Regions from separate parts of the Homo sapiens genome. Here region 1 is linked to region 2. The links come from fine-mapping of genetic effects on gene expression. A gene starts in region 2. The other region holds a variant in brackets. All regions are shown on one strand. Distances are between the middles of the regions. Region 1 overlaps ABCC4 (ATP binding cassette subfamily C member 4 (PEL blood group)). Region 2 holds the start of ABCC4 (ATP binding cassette subfamily C member 4 (PEL blood group)).

Evidence for each region. PIP is the estimated chance that this variant, and not a neighbour inherited with it, causes the effect.
Region 1: its variant is fine-mapped to the expression of ABCC4 in whole blood (INTERVAL, PIP above 0.99).

Annotation. Positions count from the first base shown.
Region 1 is chr13:95,242,660-95,250,992 of GRCh38, reverse strand. ABCC4 (ATP binding cassette subfamily C member 4 (PEL blood group)) reads left to right here. Exons shown (of 31, transcript NM_005845.5): 2 at 3,240-3,350; 3 at 3,898-4,018. Among named protein-coding and RNA genes, the nearest start is that of SNORD13G, 36 kb to the right of the region's middle. RefSeq lists an enhancer at 5,941-6,020. The variant G/A (reference allele first, on the strand shown) is at 4,819.
Region 2 is chr13:95,296,526-95,304,858 of GRCh38, reverse strand. It overlaps ABCC4 (ATP binding cassette subfamily C member 4 (PEL blood group)), which reads left to right and starts at 3,408. Exons shown (of 31, transcript NM_005845.5): 1 at 3,408-3,618. The coding sequence starts at 3,545. LOC102724149 (a long non-coding RNA gene) reads right to left here and starts at 3,908. Exons shown (of 3, transcript XR_429273.4): 1 at 3,596-3,908; 2 at 2,533-2,913. RefSeq lists silencers at 2,903-2,962, 3,143-3,202, 3,233-3,872 and enhancers at 2,689-3,463, 5,066-5,125, 8,146-8,235.

The DNA.
Region 1 (8,333 bases), 54 kb after region 2:
AACATAGAGAGACCTGGTCTCTATCAAAAATAAAAATATTAGCCAGGCACAGTGGCATGTGCCTGTACTCCTAGCTACTTGGGAGGTAGAGGTGGGAGGATTGCTTGAATTCAGAAGTTTGAGACTGCTGAGCTCTGATCGGATCTGAGTGAGCTCTGATCGCTCCACTGTACTCCATCCAGCCTGGGCAACAGAGTGAGACTCCATCTCAAAAAAAAAAAAAAAAAAAAAAAAAGAAACCAGTATTCAGAACTTCTCAAATCCTTGGGGGAAAAAACAACAAAAACTAAATGCCACCACCACCAACAATAAATAACAAAACTCTCTACTAACCCTTGTCTAAGACTCCTGCTTGCTGGAAATGATGCTGGGGGTTGTGATCCTGGGGTGGAGAATGTCTCTGTATTGCTGAAGCTGATGGCTTCCTGTGTTGGGCATTGAGCACGACTATGCTATATTGAGTTTGTATTGAATTTTACCCTAGATCATTGCTCAAGGTACTCTACCCATCTGTCTTATTCAATAATACAATCATTCATTCTTTCCATAACTGTTTATTGAGTATCTATCACATACCAGGCATAATGGGGATTCCAAATAATATGGCAGTAGTCATTGCCCTGAAAGCATTGTACTCCTAGTAGGACAGTTAGGAGGGAAGCGATGCTGCTGTACTAAGTATTGTGGGAGATAAGGGGGAGAAGAGACTAAGTCTGAGGAGAGAAGGGCTACTGGGGCAGAACTGGGTGGAGGAATGGCTCATTTGGCAGTGGTCTGGAATTGTTGACTAGACCCCCTCAGGGACACATTGGTATTAAGGAGCCAACTGACTTAGATTTCCATGTATAAAGTCCTTACATAGATGGTCAAAGATAATTTAGTCTCTTGTCAAAGTTGACTTTTGTCATCAGGCAAAAGCCTTTAGCTCTTGCTGGTACCCACATCTTTTCAGCCCAGCTTTTTGAGATCTGGGCAATGAGAGAGAGTAGGAGGGTCCTTGTTAAGTCCTTACTGATTTGTGTCATCCTCTAATAGAAGCTTTGGGTCTCTTCTGATTGCAGATACTTTAACTCAACAGTGGCATCCCTCCTTGTTAATATTTCTAAATGTTATGCAGTTAACTGTTCAGCCTGTGGAACAGAGTTACCATTCTCACTTTCCTTAATTTTTTAACTTCCTGGAGCCAGTTTTATTCCCTGATTAAAAAAACCTCTTTAGTCCAAAAAGACACCAGTGAATTTTACTTAGAAGTCCTTGCTGAAATATACTGTATGAGGTTCTGCTGGAAGGGAGGTCTCGGGCATGCAGAGGTCATCTCAGGCATGTCTGGGAAACCCACCTAAGTTGAAGCTGGACTGGTTAGGTTACAGTCTTCTGGACACATTTTGGAGGAGGTGAGGAGAAAGAGGTGAGTTGATGAGTTCTTCTTGCCATTGGGTTAATTAGAATTGCTAGTTTGGATCAGCAGGAGGTTTCCGGAATCCTGAACATAACTTGGATACCCCTGCAGTGTGTGCTCCAATCTTACGGGGCATTGAAAGCCCACCATTTCACTGCAGGCAGAAGCCACCAGGCAGTGGGTTCCCCATGGGAAGGGCTTCCTAGATTAGACAATCCCCATGTTAAAATAAAACATGCCTATTAAAGGTGACACATGGCCAGATAAGACAGCCAAGATGAAAGAAGTTTGTGTAATTGAGTAATTGCATCTATCAAAGTTATTAGAGGTTTCCTTATAGGGCACAAATATGTTTCTTCTTCTTTTTTTTTTTTTTAGACAAAGCCTTGCTGTTCTGCTCAGGCTGGTGTGCAGTGGCGATCACAGCTCACTGCAGCCTTGACCTCCTGAGCTCAGTCCATCCTCCCACCTCAGCCTCTGGAATAGCTGGGATCACAGGCTTACACCAGTACATCTGGCTAAATTTTAATTATTATTTATATTTTTTATTGTTTTGAGATAGTCTCACTCTGTTGCCCAGACTGGAGTGCAGTGGCATCGATCTCAGCTCACTGCAACCTCTGCCTCCCAGGCTCAAGTGATTCTTGTGCCGCAGCTTCCCGAGTAGCTGGGATTACAGGCATGTGTCATCACACCTCGCTAATTTTTATATTTTCTTACTAGAGATGGGGTTTTGCCGGGCTGGTCTCGAGCTTCTGGCCTCAAGTGATCCGCCTACCTCAGCCACCTAAAGTGCTGGGGTTACAGGCATGAGCCACTGCCCAGCCTTTTTCTTTATAAGTTTTTAGTAGAAGTGGGCATCTCACTATGTTGTGTAGGCTGGTCTCAAACTCCTGGGCTCAAGCCATTCTCCCTCCTCAGCCTCCCAAAGCTCTGGAGTTACAGGTGTGAGCCACTATGCCTGGTGCATGTTAATTATTATCATTTAATGATTAATGATGTTAATTATTATCATTTAATGATTAATAATGTTAATATCATTTAAGTGATTCCTAATGGATGACCATTTTGATTTTTCTTTTTTTTTAGTAAAAAGAATCTCAAAATATTTGAATAAGTTCTTTCTGTCCTCTGCAAGATTACTATTTTGTCCTTTCGTAACTAATAAATAATTTGTACCTAGATAATTTTGGATTATGTAAATGTCCCATCAAACCTTCACTGACTGGTTTTAGCTCCCATTGAAAATGTTTTCTAACCTCATCATTCTTTATCTGAGAGTTTTTCCTTCTTACCCCATTTATGTCTCAGTAAGGATTCGTGGATTCTTTTGTTATTCAGTGGGTTAGAATTCATTGCTGTCATGATTTATTTGGATGCTTCCATTATCACAGACTTGTCTAGTGGGACCCCGTCAAGCTGGGTCCTCTGTTCTTTGGGCCCATCCTCTTGATTCCTTGAATGTTTCCTTATCGTATGGTATCTCATGGGCCATCTTTTTCTGCCCCAGCCTTTGAATCAGCTATTTCTTCAGGAAGCTCTGGTTCCTTTTAGATAATAATGGTTTTGGAAACCAAGATCTGGGCACCAGCATGCTCTCAGCTACTGGTGTGTCATTGCTTCTGGGGCCTGTCTGTGGATAGAGCTAGGGACTGTGTGTGTGTGTGTGTGTGTGCACATGTTAACTTTTCTCTCTCTAGCTCTATATATTCATATCTGTCTGTCTATATATAGCTGTATGTATTTTAAAGGTAAGTTTAAGCAAAACCCATGGAGGTAGGAGTCTACTTAAACACGGATGTGTAATTCTGGATATATGTCTCTTTTCTCTTGTTAACAGGTGGCTCAATCCCTTGTTTAAAATTGGCCATAAACGGAGATTAGAGGAAGATGATATGTATTCAGTGCTGCCAGAAGACCGCTCACAGCACCTTGGAGAGGAGTTGCAAGGGTAAGTCGGAGGCAGTAAAGTGGGCATTAAGGAAGCGTGGGTGTCTGTGTGTGGGGAGTGGGTTTTGCCTTCCTGGGTCCTGTCTGGAGCCTCCGTTTACCCTTAAGGTGAATATGTGTCACCTTCCTCAGGCTGCCCCTAGGCTCAGCCTACCATGGTGGCCTGGGGGAAACTCCTGTTGCCTGTGCCTCCGTAGAGGTCAGGGGAGCCAGCACCAAAGGCCCGAGATGCCTGAGGTCTGTCCCTCTAGGTGGAAGTGTTGTGGTTGGAGGAGGTTGTCTGGCTTATCTGTGCTACTGATGGGGCTTCAATCCAGTAAAGCTTGGCAGTAACTTGTTTCCCCAGACTTCCCCTCAAGGCCTGTTTTTCTGATGCTCCAGATTCTGTACCACACATAACCTTCAGGAGCCCTGGGAGCAATTAGTAGCATTTATGAAATCGTCACAAAATGCCCTGTCTTAAATGCATACCTGTCACTCTGCCATCTCCCCTGTTTTATATTGTGGCAGGGTTCACTCTTATTTACGAAGCTTTTTCCTCATTGTAGGTTCTGGGATAAAGAAGTTTTAAGAGCTGAGAATGACGCACAGAAGCCTTCTTTAACAAGAGCAATCATAAAGTGTTACTGGAAATCTTATTTAGTTTTGGGAATTTTTACGTTAATTGAGGTAAAAGCTTTTACATACCATGAATTGTTTTTCAGGACACATAGAGTAAATGTGCTCGCCATTGACTGGTGCTGTAATGGATGGGGGAACAGAAGGGAGAAGTGGCCAGATGGGGTTTGAAGGTATTTTAAGGTCTAAGGATTAAACATGTCTAGGAAGTATTAGGTAGTTAGTTCAGTGAGCGTATTTATCCAGGTGAATACTTAAGTGACTGAAGTTCAAGGTCATTATTGTTTTTCTTGTAACCAATTAAAATGCAGTGTCATGGAAGAAGAGTATTTTATTCTATGGTAGGACAATGTTGGTGCTCGGTAAATGTTTTAAATGCTAAGAGTCACTCCTGGTCAAAAGAGGATCCTACAGCCTTGAGGAGTGCGTGCCCTGTGGTTTAGAGGAAGTGATTTTGGATCGGAGCCCAGAATAATGTAAGACATTTTACAGGTGCTCAACAAATAATTGTTCACCAAGCCAAATCTGATAATTGCTCTTCTGGAGAGGTATTGTCACCTCTCCCCTCTCGGGGAAACAGAGCTGAGGGCCTTGCACCTGGGCTGGCGGTGGTGCCCCAGAGGCTGGAGCTGGCTGAAGCACCCAAGAGCTACCCCCTCCCAGTGGGCCCAGGTGCTGGGAGCCAAAATCCCCTCTGGGAAGAAGGTCCGAGGACTGTGCACCCAAGGGGATTCATCACACCCATCCGGTGTGTCTTCCTTGTTGTCGGAGTGGATTGCTGGTTGGAAGGTAGAGTCTTGGTGCCTGGCCCTGCAGAGAATGTATAAATGGACATTCCATGAAAAATCAAA[G/A]ACAGCCAGAAGGGCAATAACCTCTGTTACCCCGAAGGGCCTCTCTTGAGATCTGCAGAAAGACAGTGTTCTGCCTAGGCACACTGCCAGGTAGCTTGTCCGTTCTGGTCTTTGGCCTGCTAGAGGAGATGCAGAGGGTCCTGCTGGGTGACTTGTGTCCTCTGTGCTACCTTAGGGATGTCAGTGGTCCATTAAAGTTAGAGGGGTGGATGTTGCTGTTGTTACAAAAGGGTGGCTTTAAATGCAGGATGGGGAGTTGTCACGGTGCATTTTGTTGGGAATGAGGTGGGTGGGGGGAGGGGGTTGGTTTGTATGTGGGGGGGTTTGCTCCTGTTGAACATGCTTTTTGTTGTGGAGGGCACGGTGGGCAGTGGGAGGCAGGTAGGTGAGCTCTGCCCTACACCAGAGGAATCTGTCAGACAACAGGGGACTGGACGGTCCTGGGAGATGAATGGTCTCATTGGTGACAAAGGTGTTTTGGCCAGGGTGCCAGATGGTGAATGCCACCTTTGAGAGGGTACCCGCCCTGCCTGCATGCTACTGTGGCTTTGTGGCAGATGGGGTGGACATGCAGAATAACCGGTGGAACTGACTTGAGGGTGGAAGAGGGCTAGGAGCCCCTCAGGTTCTCCCAGCCCCTCTTCAACCTGTGCTGGGGTGTCCCAGCGATAGTGTTTCCACATGGCCCCGATCAGTTTCAGTTGGAAAGAAATAGAATGACAAGTCGGTGTCAATGTGGCCAGTGTGTGCAGGATTTCCTGGCCCAGTTTGGCTGTGCAACCTCAGAGAAGTTGTCTGGTAGCCATGGAGCCTCTGTAAGTGTCTAAGGCTCATGCCAGGTGTCTGGTTAGGTGTAGTGGGAATCAATGGCCTCACATAGGTTTCGAGGCATGCCTCCCTCAGCTACTTCCATTTCTCTAGTTTCCCTTTGTCACCAGCTGCTTATGAAATTGAAAACAGGATGATTTAGAAGGAACTGAGCTTGTCATGCTCAGGGCTGTCCATGCTGTCATGGGCTGCCAGCCACTTGGGGTGGGGTCTCTAACCCACAGATGGTGACTGGACTACAGTGAGATTTGGGTAAGCTTTTGGGAGAAGCAGGCACAGAAGTAGAGGCTGTAGAAGCGTGAATTTCTCCTGAGACTTGAGGACAGGCCCCACTCTGGTGCAAGGAGCATGGTAATCTTTACTGCTGGTGGGCATGTGGGAAGGGGCCCGGATCGAGGGGAGCTTTAATATGGGTACAGTTGGTGGAGAGCTGGTCTTTTAGCGGGGTGGTTATTGGGCAGTCATGGCAGAAAAGTAGGGAGTGGAGGACCTGGCAAATATGGGGGCTCATGCTCAGTACTGCTTAGCAGCAGCAGTGCTAGTAGAAGCAGCAGCAGGATTAGTAGTGGTTGGTACTCAGTAGTAGTAGTAGCAGCAGCAGTGATAGTAGCAATAGTTGTAATAATACTGACAGTGAGTACTTGAAAAATACTATGTACCAGGAACTGCTATGATTTCTTTCTTTCTTTCTTTCTTTCTTTCTTTCTTTCTTTCTTTCTTTCTTTCTTTCTTTCTTTCTTTCTTTCTTTCATGTTATTTTATTTTATTTTGTTTTTTGAGATAGGGTCTCACTCTGTTGCCAGGCTGGAGTGCAGTGGTGCTATCTTGGCTCACTGCAGCTTTGGCCTACTGGGCTCAAGCAGTCCTCCCAAGTAGCTAGGACCACAGGTGCACGCCACCATGCCTGGTTAATTTTTGTATTTTTGTTTCACTATGTTGCCCAGGTTGGTCTTGAACTCCTGGGCTCAAATGATCCTCCCACCTTGGCCTCTCAAAGTGCTGGGATTATAGGCAGGAATCACCATGCTCAGTCAGAAGGCATTCTTTTAACCCTACTTTTGGGAAGAGGACACTGGGTGCCATGTAGTTATATAATGTGCCTAGGGCCACACAAAGTGTAAATGACAGAGCCCAGATTCAGTCTCAGGAGCGCTGACTTAGGGACCTAACCATCTCCAGACTGTCGTAAAGGTGTCTTGAGAACTCTGTCTTCAGAGTATCCAGCACATGCTTCTTGAACTTGGCCTAGGGATAAGTCAGATGCTAAGAGCTCCCTGGAACAGTGGGGCATGGCTGTGGGAAATCAGATTGGGGATTATAAATTACCCTAGGTTCCTAGGTGTCCTGGTGCCGGAAAGTCAGGTGACATGCTAGAGAGTGGCTGGGGTGCTGGGCAGGTCAGAGCACCAAGGTACATTCAGGTTGACCACGAACTCTTTTTTTTTTTTTATGTTTTCGTCTGAGGTGGGGTCTCACTCTGTCACTCAGGCTGGAGTGCAGTGGTGTGATCTCAGCTCACTGCAACCTCCATCTCCCTGGGCTCAAGCAATCCTCCCACCTCAGCCTCCTGAGTAGCTGTGACTATAGGCATGCACCATGCCTGGCTTATTTTTTGTATTTTTAGTAGAGATGAGGTTTTACCATGTTGTCCGGGCCGGTCTAGAACTCCTGAGCTCAAGCCATCGGCCCACCTCGCCCTCCCAAATTAATGGGATTACAGGTGTGAGCCACTGTGCCTGGCTGACCAAGAACCCTTTAGAAACCTGTCTCCCACTGAGTACCATCCTCCACATGTGTGAGGCGTGCAGCCCTGCTGACCCAAGTTCATCAACATCCACGCTGTTAAGACACCATTCCCAGTTGTCTCCTCCTCGGATGGACGAGGGGGAAGCTTGTGGTCTTGCATGGTCACGACATTGACTGATGGTCTGGGCGGATGTCAAGTTCCCTGTTTTTACTTATCAAAGGCTCTGGGTTTCTTGCATAGCAATGATATCTCTGCAGTTTCAGAAGCCTTTGGCCTGAATCGTGAAGTGGGTGTGCAGTTTGCTTGGCAAGGATGAAGACCCCAGATGAGTCACTAGTATGGGGACAGCTCTTCTGTCCTGGTATCTGAACCCTCCCACTAGCAAGGTGGGCCCCAGGTATTAGGGCGGCAGGCTAAGGTGTTAAGATGGACCCACACAGTGCTGGCGGCAGGCACCTCTCATATAAAGTGGAGCCTGGGCTTTTCACAAGAGAGCACTTGTTGGTCCTGTGTTTACACCAATATCTTGGTGGTTTATGGTATAAAATTAGACAGTAGTCAGTTATTCTTTAGAGGATCATGGTGACTAGTGGATGATGCTCATTTTAACCTTGTGTCTTTAACATAATAACTGGTAGAACTTTTAGTTCCGATGCAGTGAAGTTCAGGGAGCTAAAGCTCTTCCCAGTTCAACTCAAAGTAATCCTTGGATTTTTTTTTTTCTTTTCCTTCTAGCAGTGAAAACAGCCTGAATTCTAGTATAAATACTATTGTTTTCCCAGCCTTGCCTATTGACACTTGGCTGTTTTGGAGAAGTTGGAGAGAAATAATTTCTTAAGATGAAGGTAGTGAGTGTAACATCTCAAAAGCATTTCAGGTGTTGTTTTGGGTTTTCAATCATTAAAGCTATTTATTGGCCAGGCATGGTGGCTTATGCCTA
Region 2 (8,333 bases):
TCCTCTCTGCAGTCAGACACTGCTCTATAGTATCTCTTCCAAACACCACATTGTTAATGTTCAGAAAAGAATGTTAAGAAGTTCCAAAAGATCTTAATTAAGAAAAAAATAAGCCTCTGCAGGAGCCGAAGGGACTGAGCACTTTGGCAATTTGGAGATGGCTAATGACGGTTCTTACACAGTTGTTGGGGGTAGGGAGAGCATTCTGGGACAGTCTGACAGAGGAAGTCACTAGACTTCTAACTTTAGTAAACAGGTTCTCTAGCTTGGAAGTAGAACTGGTAGCTCAGCATTTACTGGGCTAGAAAACTTAGGAAGTTTCAAAGGGCACTGTAAATCAGGTGAAGGCTGACTATTTTGGTTTATAGCTTATATTATCTGAGAAAGAGCTATCAGAAAGGTAGGTTATTGAATGATCATAGCTTTCCCACAGTAGTCAACTTAAAATATTGTGTTCCTTTTTGTGACAGAAATTCTGAAACATGAGCTGGTATGCTGGCGAGTGCCTACAATCCCAGGTACTTGGAGGGGTTGAGGCAGGAGGATCCCTTGGGCCCAGCAGCTTGAGTCCAGCCTGGGCAACATACTGAGAGCCCATCTCCAAAAAGAAAACCATTCTCAAACATGCATGAAATGTAAGAAAATAAACCCCTATGACACATCATTTGGCTTCAAAAATTATCAATATTTTGCCATTCTTATGTGCTTGACTTTTTTTTTTTTTGAGACAGAGTCTCACTCTTTAGCCCAGGCTGGAGGGCAGTGGTGTGATCATAGCCTACTGTAGCCTCCAACTCCTGGGCTTAAGCAATCCTCCCACCTGAACCTCCAGCTGGGACTACAGACTCACGCCACCACACCCATCATATTTTTACATTTTTAGTAGAGATGAGGTCTCCCTTTGTTGCCCAGGCTGGTCTAGAACTCCTGGGCTCAAGCAATCCTCCCACCTGAGCCTCCAGGTTACATGGGACTACAGACTTACTCCACCATGCCCATCTAATTTTCACATTTTTAGTGGAGATGAGGTCTCCCTATGTTGCCCAGGCTGGTCTAGAACTCCCGGGCTAAAGCAATCCTCCTGTCTCCACCTCTCAAAGTGCTGGGATTATGGGCTTGTACAGCCTGGAGTGCAGTGGCACCTTCTTTTTTTTTTTGAGACGGAGTTTCACTCTTGTTGCCAAGCTGGAGTGCAGTGGGATGATCTCGGCTCACTGCAACCTCCGCCTCCTGGGTTCAAGTGATTCTTCTGCCTGAGGTTCCTGAGTAGCTGGGATTACAGGCATCCACCACCACACCCAGATAATTTTTTGTATTTTTAGTAGAGATGGGGTTTCACCATGTTGGCCAGGCTGGTCTCGAACTCCTGACGTCAGGTGATTCACCTGCCTCAGCCTCCCAGAGTGCTAGGATTATAGGCGTGAGCCATTGTGCCCAGCCCAGTGGGCACCTTCTTAACTCCTTGTAGCCTGGAACTCCTGGGCTAAAGCCATCCTCCTGTCTCAGCCTCTCGAGTAGCTGGGACTACAAGGGTACGCCACCACACCTGGGCTAATTTTTAAAACTTTTGGTAGAGACAGAGCCTCACTATGCTGGCTAGCCTGTGCTTGACTTTTAAATATGTGTTTGTGTAAGGCTTTCTTTAAAAGCTATTAACTATACTATTTTAGCAAATATACATGGGAAATTATCAAGGAACAATAAAATGATCTTGTTCCAAGCACCATGAACTTGGAGCCTTTCATTTTTTTTCATTCAGGGTGGATATGAAGAGCAGCTGCTGACCTTGTTAAGGTAGCCACAGAAATGACTGAAGACTTAGAGGTGGGAGTACACAAGCTTGGAACAAGATTTTGTTCATTCATTCCTACAGCCATTCAACCAGCATATTCTGGGCACTTCTCATGCACACTGGCCATCCACCAGGGAGACAGGCCATGCTTAGACATAGGCTTATTGCAAATCATGTTTTATCCTTTCTTGGCTCTAAGACTGGACAAGTTCTGCCTTTCAGCTTCACCTTCCTCATCTATAAAGTAAGGATAACCTTGAATGGGGCACTGATAGAATTAAAAGTGAGATAATTGGTCGGGCGTGGTGGTACATGCCTGTAATCCTAGCACTTTGGGAGGCCACGGTGGGAGGATCACTTGAGCCTAGGAGTTTGAGACCAGCCTGGGCAACAAAGTGAGAAATTATCAAGGAACAATAAAATGATCTTATTACAAAGAAAACCAAATTCTCAAACATGCATGAAATATGAAGAAAATAAACCTCCATGACAATCATTTGGCTTCAAAAATTATCAGTATTTGAACTTGGAGCCTTTGATTTTGATTTTTGCATCTCTACAAAAATTACAAAATATGAGCCGGGTGTGGTGGCGGGTGCCTGTAGTCCTAGCTACTTAAACTGAGTTGGGAGGATTGCTTGAGCCCTGGGAGGTCGAGGGTGCAATGAGCCATAATCGTGACACTGTGTGTGAGACTGCCACACACACACACACACACACACACTAGTGAGGCTACGCACTCAGAAATGCACATGAACATCACTGGTATTCTGGAACCCACGTGTCGTTTGCCACTGTTATCTGTTAGGCTTTAGGGCTTGACGACAGAAATCATCAGGCAGTCTCTCTTTCCTCTTATATTCCTTTCCCAATCTAAGGGGGCAGCAAAAAGCTCAGAGGTCCACCGTAGCATGCAACATGTGAGATGCCTAAAGCCCGCCCCCATCGACGACAGCATTCATCCATCTCCCGAATTCATCTGGGTCATACTCTCGAGTTACCCGGCTTTCTTGAGGTCTTGCAGCTCTACAAGGATAATCTGTGGCTAAACTTTGCTGTCGTCCAAGGTCAAATGTTTGGCTCACAGGTTGAAGAGCCTCCCATGGCACCGTCGTTTGGTCCTGAGAAGGGAAAGGCGCCCAGGGGGCGGGCTGCTAGAGCACGAGGCAGCTGTCTCCCAGTCTTCCCAAACCCGTAGCCGAGGGGGCGTTTCTGCGGCGCAGGGGCGGGCACAGCCGACGCCTCCCTGCTCCACCTTCTGTGTCGGCGCCTAGACTCGGATAGTGAATTTCGGAAAGTTTCACTCGGGTTCGTGCACGTGGGCACCTCCGGACCCGGCCTCCTTGCCGCGCGCTCTGCTACCCTCTCCATCCAGCGGCGCAGGCGGCCCTCGCCTCACCCCTGGGCGTAGCTCTGGGCTCCCTTTGGCGTCGCCAGCTTCGCCTCCTCCCGCCGCGTCTCCTCCCGCCGCGTCACCCGTCGGTCCCGGCCGCGCTCGCACGCGGTGCGCAGCTCCCGGGCTCCAGGCGGCGGCGCGTAGCGGGCGCCCCCGAGGCGGCGGGCCTGAGAGGCGGGGACGGGGCGTGCCGCCGGCGCCCGGCTCCCGGAAGCGGCTGCTTCACAGGCTCCAGCCGAGCGGACAGGCGTGGCGGCCGGAGCCCCAGCATCCCTGCTTGAGGTCCAGGAGCGGAGCCCGCGGCCACCGCCGCCTGATCAGCGCGACCCCGGCCCGCGCCCGCCCCGCCCGGCAAGATGCTGCCCGTGTACCAGGAGGTGAAGCCCAACCCGCTGCAGGACGCGAACCTCTGCTCACGCGTGTTCTTCTGGTGAGTGTCCCCGCCCGAAACAGGTCACCCTGCAGCCGCTGGCGCCGCGGACGCACTCTCCCGGGGCCGCGCCCGATGCTGCCCAAGCCCTCTGCGGCTGGGGGCGAGGGGAGCGCTTTCCTACGCCACGCGGTCCACGCCGGGGCTTTCTGCTGCGGGTGGCGCCGCCCCCACGCCGGCCGCGTGGTCCCTGCCTGCGCCCCGGGGCGCGGCGCAGGGGGACGCGGGGACGCGGGGCCAGTGGCTTTGCTACTGGAGGCCCTGCGGGCCCTTAGGGCTCGGGGGAGGAGGAGCAGGAGGTGGGGAGGCGGGGAACCCAGGCTGCCGAAAGGGGGAGTCTCTTGCCCAGCGGGAGAAGCGACTGCACCCCTTACACGCCCACCCTTCGCTGGCTCCCGCCTCCTGCTCTGGGACTCGCAGTCTCCTGAACTCAAACGCACCTTTTCCTTTCTTTTTAAGTAAGCAGCTTACGAACAGTTTCCTTTATCTGATCTCAGCCAAAGCCTAATTAGTGTCCTGGACCTATGCCATCTCCCAGTAGTGTCCCCACCCCTTCCGATATTCCTTACGAGACAGCTCGATCCAACTCCACGTCCCGTTGTACCTCTCTGTGTCCCGGTGTCTCTGTATCTTTTGTCTCAGTGACCAGGGCTCTCCTTTTGCCTCTTTGTGGGAATCTCACTGTGTGTCCATGTGGGTCGTGGTACCTAGTTATGGCAAGTTTCATGTGGGTAAAATAACACTATTATTATTTTTCATTTATGAATGGGGACCCTGTTCTTGAACAAGATTTTCCAGGATTTGCTTTTAACTGGGACATGCACCGCCACGACTGGAGTCTGTCTTTGACCAGCTTCTTTCCCCTGTTTCCAATACTTTCACTTCCACGTAGGAGGACAGCTCGGAGGTGGGGTCCCTGGAATCGCTAACCTTCAGAGAGGTGATCCATGGTCTTGATGCAGGTGGTTCCTACCAGGAGTTCTACCTTCTTAAAACCACCCCAGGGCTCCTGAGCTGGGAGGGCCCACAGCCCTACCCATTTTGTGCAAGGAAACAAACGGAGAAAGACTCGGGTGACAGTAGTAACTAAAATTTCCATCTTGGCCTGGCGCGGTGGCTCACGCCTGTATCCCTGCACTTTGGGAGGCAGAGGTGGGTGGATCACGAGGTCAGGAGTTCGAGACCAGCCTGGCTGACATGGTGAAACCCCGTCTCTACTAAAAATACAAAAATTAGCCGGGTGTGGTGGAGCACGCCTGTAATCCCAGCTACTCAGGAGGCTGAGGCAGGGGAATTGCTTGAACCCAGTAGGCGGAGGTTGCAGTGAGCTGAGATCGCCCCACTGTACTCCAGCCTGGGTGACAGAGTGAGACTCCGTCTTGGGGGAGTGGCGGGTGTGTGTGGGGGAATTCCGTCTGCTAACTACATAAGCCTGAACCTTTGAAGGGCTTCAATCTCACTTGGATGATTATTAGATCTTCTGTTTCTTGACCTCTGCCGCCTCATCTTTCCCACATGTTGATATTGCCTTTTATTATGGGACAACCTAGGGTGGGGGTCTCCAATTTTTTGGGTTCCCTGGGCCACACTGGAAGAATTGTCTTGGGCCATACATAAAATACACTAACACTAATCATACACTAACACTAATGATAGCTGATGAGCTAAAAAAAAATCGCAAAAAAAAATCTGATGTTTTAAGAAAGCTTACGAATTTGGCAGCCCATGGGCCTCAGGTTGGACAAGCTTGACCTAGGGGATTCCAAGAGGATGAGTCGCTTACTCTTGTTTCGATTGTGGTACACTCAGTGGGTGTAGGAACTTCTCTTGGTTGTTTGGCGGCCTTTCTCTTAAGGAGAGGGGCACGTGGAGGAGGAAGGAATATGGGTGTGGTTTCTGCAAATAATAACTTGAGGTAGACAAATGGTCTCCTCAACTTCAGGCAGGGCAAGGAACTTTTTTTTTTTTTTTTTGAGACAGGATCTTGCTTTGTGCAAGCTGTGACCCAGGCTGGAGGGCAGTGACACATTCATAGCTTGCTGCAGCCTCCAACTCCTGGGCCGAAGCAATCCTCCTGCCTCAGCCTCCCGAGTAGCTGGGGCTCCAGGTGTGTGTCACCATGCCCGGATAATAAAAAAAAATTTTTTTTGTAGAGATAGGGCTCTCTATGTTGTTGCTCAGGCTGGTCTTGAACTCCTGGGCTCAAGTGTTCCTCCCGCTTCGGCCACCCAAAGTCTGGGATTACAGATGTGACTCCTGCCTCCTTATATTTTTCTCCCCCTGCATTTTCAAAATGTAGGTGGCAGGGAAATAGGAAGTGATGCGCTCCCATTGATGACTTGAGTAGGTGTTCATTTCCGGTTTCCCTGATGGAAGGGAAGGAGCTAGTAGACCTCTGTTTTACTCCGAGGACACTTAAGCTGAGAGTGGTTAAGTTGCCTGGACTCACACAACAATCAAGTGTCAGAGCAGGCTCCAAAGCTGGGCAGACTGGCTCCCCAGCCTCTTTGGAGCTGCTGTACTGAGCTGCTTCCAGTTCAGGTGCTGTCGGAAATGCATGGAGAAGGCGCTCCCTGTTCTGGAAGGCTAGAGTTTCTCAAGGGAAATTCTTAAAGTACCTGCAGTTGGAGATGATGCATGTGTAACAACTATTAGTGTGCTTTAGGGCAGCTGTTCTCAAAGCATAGCACTCAGAGCAGCAGCATCGGCATCACTTGGGAGATTCTAAGAGATGCAGATTCTCCAGCATCCACTCTGGACTGATTCAGTAAAACTGGAAACACTGGGTGTGTGGGTGGGGGTGGTGAGGTTTCAAGTGCTCCAGGTGATCCTGATTTGAGGCGCTTACTGCTTCCAGCTACTCCTTTCATTGGAGTATTATTACAGTATTATGCTTTTCTTTATTTTTAATTGTTAAAATTTCTTTATTTCTTTTTTTTGAGACGGAGTCTTTCTCTGTTGCTCAGCTCTGTCACCCAGGCTGGAGTGCAGTGGTGCAATCTCTGCTCACTGCAACCTCTGCCTCCTGGGTTCAAGTGATTCTCCTGCCCCAGTCTCTCAAGTAGCTGGGACTATAGGCGTGCACCCTCACACCCAGCTAATTTTTGTATTTTTGGTAGAGATGGGGTTGCACCATGTTGGCCAGGCTGGTCTTGAACTCCTGACCTCAGGTGATCTGCCCGCCTTGGCCTCCAAAAATGCTGGGATTACAGGCATGAGCCACTGTGCCTGGGCCAGTTTGAGGGATTTTAAAGTCTGAGGCCTCATAGTGAGAAAATAATAATAATCATCATCTGAGGAATGCGGAGTCCTTTTAAATTATCAGGCCCAGAGAGACATTAAAATGACACAGCAGTCACCTCGTAGTTCCCACCCCCTTGAGCTATTTACTTATCACTCGAAAGTACTTCATATTGCCACATAGCTACAGATTAACCTAACAGTGCCCCAAGGACACTGTAATCCACAGCTCAGGAGTTTGAGCTCCAGCGATCTGCCTGCCTCGGCCTCCCAAAGTGCTGGGATTACAGGCATGAACCACCACACTGGGTCTGTAGTAAATTCTTGAGTTATATTTTGTGCCTTAGCCTCCTGCTTTTAGGTCAGTATTTGTGTACCCTTCCCACTGCCAGTGGAAAGCTGAAATGAGCCCATCCAGGAAGTGGCTGCCTGGAGACAGGGCCCACCTTGTAGGGAAAAACTGCTTTTTCACCTTCTTGTTGAGTGTTTGCTTTTCTTCTCAAATATCATCTGCTTTCTGAACTTGTGAACTGGCAGCTGCCTACCTAAATGATGCCAATAACTGGCTTACTGACTTTTATTCAAAGTATTTTCCCGGGATTTTGGTGTATTTATAGCATAATTTGGACTTGGAGTCTAAAAGGAGTCATGCATTATGGCTGTTGGCAATTGTGGATTTTTAAAGGTAGTATTTTCACCTATTTCTTTCTTTTTTCTTTCTTTTTTTTTTTTATGAGACAGAGTTTTAGCTCTGTTGCCAGGCTGGCCGTGGTGTGATCTCGGCTCACTGCAACCTCCGCCTCCAGGGTTCAAGTGATTCTCCTGCTTCAGACTCCCAAGTAGCTGGGATTACAAGTGCCCACCACCATACCTGGCTAATTTTCATGTTTTTAGTAGAGACAGGGTTTCACCATGTTGGCCAGGCTGGTCTCGAACTCCTGACCTCAGGTGATACACCTGCATCGGCCTCCCAAAGTGCTGGGATTACAGGTGTGAGCCACTGTGCCTGGCCTTCCATTTTCTTTTAGCTATTGTTTCATTTCTAACAATAAAGGCAGCTAGAATTTCTTTTGGTATTTGATATGAGATAGTCCCCATTTTTTCCCCAAACAGCTCGTTTTCCCCATTATCATTTATTGAATAATTCCTCCTCTTTCCCGTTAGTGGAAATAAGTGGCATAGCCTATGAACTGTGGCCAGCTGGGCACAAGATGGGTCAATCCCTGAGACTCTCCTAGGAATTGTCCTGCTGCCCCCTGGTGCCCGGCAGGCACTTTGCATTCCTCTGCCCACACCTGATCCAGAGGTGATCTGGGGTCAGCAGCAGGGTGGAGGCTAACAACGAAGGACTTTTCCCTAAATATGGGCATTGAGAGGGATCTCCAGATGCATCTGGCCCACAGAAAGTGGTTAAATCCTTGCTCCCCTGTTGCTGGCCATATCTCAGTGGGTGAAGTGTCATCTTGCAAAGCCTG